2 separate regions of the Homo sapiens genome follow, and region 1 is linked to region 2. The links come from fine-mapping of genetic effects on gene expression. A gene starts in region 2. The other region holds a variant in brackets. All regions are shown on one strand. Distances are from middle to middle. Region 1 has its middle 21 kb from the start of MYMK. Region 2 holds the start of CACFD1 (calcium channel flower domain containing 1).

Region 1 (2,905 bases), 44 kb before region 2:
ACAGAGCCAGGACACGGCCCCAAGTTTGGGGTCTCTGAGTCCTGTGTGCTGTACACTGCACTCACGGCCTCCTTTGTCCTGCCCTGTTCTGCCACTGGATGGCCCAACAGAGGTCTTCACTGTGGACCAGCGAAGCCCCTAGGCACCGCCTCCTGAGCTGTGAGCTCGCAGGGATCTTGGCTGTTGGGCTCATCACAGTGCAGTGGGACAGAATTCTAGGCAGCCAAGTGCCTGACTGATCCCACAGACAGCACCCAGCAAGTAACAAGTACATGAATCAGAAAACAAGCCACGAAGGAGGGGGAGGAGGTTGAGTCTCCCATCATTGGCTCTCGCAGTGCCTGCCAGACACTGTTAGAAGTGCTTTATGTGCTTGAGCCCAGGAGTTCGAGACCAGCCTGGGTAATATAAGGAGACCCTGTCTCTACAAAAATAATAATAATTATTATTATTTTAAAATATGGGCCAGGCGCAGTGGCTCACGCCTGTAATCTCAGCACATTGGGAGGCTGAGGCAGGTAGATCACCTGAGGTCAGGAGTTCGAGACCAGCCTCGCCAACATGGTGACACCCCGTCTCTACTAAAAATACAAAAATTAGCGGAGCGTGGTGGCGCATCCTGCAGTCCCAGCTACTAGGGAGGCTGAGGCAGGAGAATCGCTTGTACCCAGAAGGTGGAGGTTGCAGTGAGCTGAGATCACACCATTGCACTCCAACCTGGGCAACAAGAGCAAAACTCCATCTCAAAAATTAATTAATTAATTAAAAAATTAAGAAGTGCTTTCTGGATAGCGGCTGTTAGGTCTCTCAACTGCCCTGTGAGACAGGTACCGGACTGCCCTCCTAATGTTCATGATGATGTCTTCTTCCTTACTTTGCAGATAAGGGCGATTTCAAACTATTTTATCGCCATCATCATTATTGTTCTAACTGGTACTGAGGTCGGTCAGAAAACACAGTCTCTGAGACGGCAAGCCTTCACAGCGGCTGTCTCTCTCTATGGCCCAGCATGTGGTCAGCTTCCATGACGGCCCCGTGTAGTCCTGCCCTTGGCCTTCTGTGTGAGTCCGTCAAGTCAAGCTTCTTGACGATGCTGCTTAAATCTGTCATTACCAAGTATTTGCCTACTTGCTATCAACTCCTGAGAGAGGGGTGTAAAAATCTCCCACTCAGGCTGGGTGCAATGGCTAACACCTGTAATCTCAGCACTTTGGGAAGCCGTGGTAGGAGGATTGCTTAAGCTCAGGAGTTCAAGACCAATCTGGGCAACATAGCGAGACTCCACCTCTACAAAAGAAATTTTAAAAATTAGCTGGGCGTGGTGGCGCACACCTGTAGTTCCAGCTACTCAGGAGACTGAAGCAGGAGGATTGCTTGAGCCCAGGAGGTCGAGGTTGCAGTGAGCCGAGATCTCGCCACTGCACTCCAGCCTGGGTGACAGAGCAAGACCCTGTCAA[G/A]AAAAAAGAAAAAAGAAAAGAAAAGAGAATTCCCCCACTCTGCAAAGGACAGTCTTTAACACAAATAATGCTGGAACAAATCAATGTCCCGAGGCATCAAAGTGAACCTCAACCTTTTTTTCACATCCCACCCCAAAATTAACTCCAAAAACTAGAAAACCTCTAGCAGAAAACATCAGAGAAAATCTTTGTGACCTTGGATTAGGCAAAGATTTCTTAAATATGACACCAAAGGTGTGATCCATCAAAGAAAAAAACTGATCAACTAGACCATCAAAATTGTAAATATTTACCCTTCAAAAGACATCACGAAGAAGCAGACTGGGAGGAAACATACATAACCCTTTAAAGAGTTAGAATGTATATGCTAATTCCATTCCTTTAGTGGTAGTTCATCAAAGTTTCTAGTAAATTCATATCTTTACCCTCCCCTTGAACATCGCAGGACCATAGAACCTTTTAATTCCAATTATTTCCCTCCTAACTTTAAGACGATTATTACCTTGTATTTTTCTTTTATCTTCATTTAAACAACACATGACATTTTTACCACCAATAATTGTTTAGATTTGCCCACATATGACAATCTCTTCGACTTTCATCTCTTCTTATACCCCAATTTTTTCATCTGGGGTTATTTTCCTTCTGGCTCAAACATATCTTTTAAAACTTCCTCAAGTGGCCGGGCATGGTGGGCTCACACCTGTAATTCCAGCACTTTGGGAGGCTGAGGTGGATGGATTGCTTGAGCCTAGGGGTTCCAGACCAGCCCTGGCAACATATGGAGACCCCCATCTCTACAAAAAAAAAAACAAGAATTAGCTGGGCATGGTGGTGCACACCTGCAGTCCCAGCTACTCAGGAGGCTGACGTGGGAGGATCACCCAAGTCTGAGAGTTCAAGGCTGCAGTGAGCCATGATTGCACCACTGCACTCCCATCTGGGCAACAGAGTGAGACCCTGTCTTAAAAAATAAAATTAATTTTACAAAAAATTTCCTTAAGCAAGGGTTGTTTGTGGGACACCTTCTTGATTTTTATTTGCCTATGATTGTCTTTATTTTTTTCACTGAATATTGAATTGTATAGGTGGGTAATCCTTTGTGTCTTTATTTTTTCCACTGGATATTGAATTCTAGGTTGACAATCATTTGCATCTTTAATTTTTTTCACCGGATATTGAATTCTAGGTTGGTAATCATTTGCTCTGAGCATTTTGAAGACATCATTTCTCTGTTTCCTAATTCCCATTGTTGCTCCTGAATAGTAAGTTCTCAGCGTAACTATCTTTGAAGATAATCTATATTTTCTCTTGGGCTCTTTTATAAGACTTCTCTTGGTCTTCAATGTTCTGTATTTTTATTCTTATGTGACTCGTGTGGAATCCTTTTTCTTTGGCTTGCTTGAGAGTCACTGGGCTTCTTAAATTTGTGGGTTGCTATCTTTCAT
Region 2 (2,905 bases):
TGGATAAGGGCATGCCTAGCGAGGGCAGCACACTCCTAGCCCAGCACCCTCCTGCCTCAACCTCCCTCCACCCTCTACCCACCTGGAAAGGCTGTGGAACCCAAGGTGACCCTGAAAAGGTGGTCCTTCTGGCAGGATTGCTGATGGGGCCTGCCCTGCCCAGGCCCAGAGCTAGCCCTCTCTGCCAGGCAGGCACTGTTTAAAACCTGCAGACATCCTCGACAGACATTCTCTAAGACCTTGCCCACTCCAGTAATCCACAAGATTGAGGGCAGACAGGAAAGGAAAGGGTATCACTCAGACAGACTTGTCTTTCCCTGGAAGGCCAGCTGTACGGCTTCCATTCACTCCTGGAGCTGACCTGCCTCCCTCTTTGTCCTTTTCTGGCTGTGCTTAAGAGCCTAGCTTCCCTGGCAGCCTAAGGTCAGGGTCTGTGACTGGGATGCGTGCGGAGAAGGGGAGGAAGGCCGGTGACAGGCGGCTAAGGCAGCAGCAACGGGGGAGATATGAGAGCGGACAGAGGACCCAGGGAGAGGCCGGGCCCTCAGCTCACTGCCCCGCGGCCCCAGGGGCCACCTGTGCCCTGACACCACCTGACCCTCAGCAAACTTCCGCCCAGTGGCTTCCTGCCAGAAATCTAGCCAGCCGTGCACCCGCCTCCCTTACAAACAATCCTTGCCCAAAGGTTAGCAATGTGGCTGCCGTCACCTACGCCCAAGTCAACAGTTGACGCTTTAGTACGGGCCAGGTGGGCATGCGCCCCGTGAGCATCACCGAGAAAGTCTCACAAAAGCCCCTGGGGAGCGGGGGGAGGGCTCAGTCACGTGCCCCAGGCCGGTGCCCCACCCCCGCCCCCGCCGCCCCCCCGCCCTGGGGTTTCTGGTCCCTCCGGGAATGTTCCCAGAAGCGCCAGCCCAGCCCAGCCCGGGGTACCAAGGCGCCCAGGCCCGAGCGGGTAACCATGGCAACCCCAGGACGCCGGCTCCCGGCGGCCCCGCCATTCCTCCGCCCCGGGAGGCGCCCGGCAGACCCCCGACCCCCAGCGGGTCCTTTCCCCTGGGGCCGCCGGGGCGGGGCGGGGCAGGGCAGGGCGAGGAGCGCATGCGCGGCGGGGCCGGCCCCTCTCCCCGACTGGATACTCACAGACTGCCCCCAGCACCCCAGACAGGCGACACAGCCAGCGGTACCACCACGTCATGCCCTCTTCCTGCGCGGGCGGCGCAGAGCTGGCGGACGCCCCGGGCGCCCCACCTGAGCTGCTCATGGTGCCACCGTCAGGCGCAGCTCACAGCCCTCACAAAGGGCTCGGTAGCCGGCCGCGTCCGAGCCGGCGCGCTGCCTTGTGGGAGAGGGAGCATATTAGCATAGGGGGCGGGGCTTTCAGGCTGCGGCGAGGCGCGCCCGAAGGGAGGCGGGTGCTCATTAACATAGTGAGCGGGACCCTCATGCCGCGACTAGGGGCGTTTGAGGGGAGGTAGGTGCTCATTATTGTAGGGGGCGGGACCCGCAGGCTGCGGCGAGGAGCTGGGGGTGGGGAGCTCGTTAGCATACGGGGCGGGGCTCGCAGGCATCGGAGAGGTGTGCCCGAGGGGGGCGGGCGTCATTAGCGTAGGGGGCGGGGGCTCGCAGTTTGCGGCGACTTGCTCCCAAAGGAGGCGGGCGCTTATTAGCATAGGGGGCGGGGCCTGGAGGCGCGCAGACACCTTAGCGGTCAGAGCCTCACACCAGGACACACGGGTGGGGCTTCGCAGGGAGCTGGCTAATGCGCCATCCTCGGAGTGGAATCCTGATTGGATTTTCTTCCTGGATAGGAAGAAGATAACTAGGGACGTCCAGCGGCTTGCTCAGATCAAGATAGAGCCAACCGCGGCCAGCGAATCCCTGCCTTGCCATGGGATGGGTTTTCAAGCCAGGTCTGGACAGCTTATAAGAAAAAAACGCCGGTCAGCCTGCATGTTTTATTTATTGGTACCCGAGGAAATGGGGGCTGCTTTTCCAGAGTCCCCACCTCCAACCCCCTAGCCTTTTGGACATTGGAGAAGACTCTAAAGTAGATACCTAAGATTGGAAAAAGTTCGAATTGGAAAGCACTGAGACCAGGGGTCAACCCTCCAGGGCTGGCCAGACACGGAACAAATGTTCAATGACCCTCAGGTTCCTTCCTTTCCCTTCCAGGACTGAGGGTCCTGCATCTCCGGTACCCATGATTGGAGGGTCCAGTACTGGCCCCGCAGGCTGGCCTGAGCCTTCAGGAAGCCCTCGCTGAACTCCATCTCAGCCTGGCTGCTCTCTGACTCCCAGTAGAGCACCTGCTGCCCATGGAACGCTGTGGTCCTCAAGCTGTGGGTGTCCCGGATCTGAGAGAAAAGGGGCAGCCCAGAAGGACCGGCCACAAGTAATAATTAGCACTCACGGAAGCCTTCGTGTGCAAGGGCTCACAGATTCCGGATCACATTTAATGCTTACAAAGCCCTACTAGGAATACGCCATTACTCTACCCAGAAAACCGAGGTCCAGGGACGTTACATCACTTCCCCAAGGACACACAGTCAGGGTGCCAGAGCGGGGCCAGGCTGCCTCCTCTGGGGAAGCTGATACCCTGCAGAACACAGTTCTCCCAGGACACTTGAAACCTCGGGGAGGGTGCAGGGTGCTATTCTGTCCAAGTTATATCAGACTGTAAAATTATGCTTCAGTCTTGGGTTAGCTGTCAGTCTACATCAGAAAGGTCTTTACCATTCTTTACCATTTCGCTTTTTTTTTTTTTTTTTTTTTGAGACAGAGTCTCACTCTGTTGCCCAGGCTGGAGTGCAGTGGTGCGATCTGGGCTTAGTGCAACCTCCACCTCCCGGGTTCAAGTGATTCTTGTGCCTCAGCCTCCCAAGTAGCTGGGATTACAGGCACA

The links. PIP is the estimated chance that this variant, and not a neighbour inherited with it, causes the effect.
Region 1: its variant is fine-mapped to the expression of CACFD1 in subcutaneous fat (GTEx, PIP 0.98).

The regions. Positions count from the first base shown.
Region 1 is chr9:133,502,649-133,505,553 of GRCh38, reverse strand. No RefSeq gene overlaps it. Among named protein-coding and RNA genes, the nearest start is that of MYMK, 21 kb to the left of the region's middle. The variant G/A (reference allele first, on the strand shown) is at 1,458.
Region 2 is chr9:133,458,426-133,461,330 of GRCh38, reverse strand. CACFD1 (calcium channel flower domain containing 1) reads right to left here and starts at 1,353. Exons shown (of 5, transcript NM_017586.5): 1 at 1,144-1,353. The coding sequence starts at 1,264. It overlaps ADAMTS13 (ADAM metallopeptidase with thrombospondin type 1 motif 13), which reads right to left. Exons shown (of 29, transcript NM_139027.6): 29 at 1,945-2,357. The coding sequence ends at 2,151. RefSeq lists silencers at 838-1,137, 1,428-1,527, 1,538-1,757.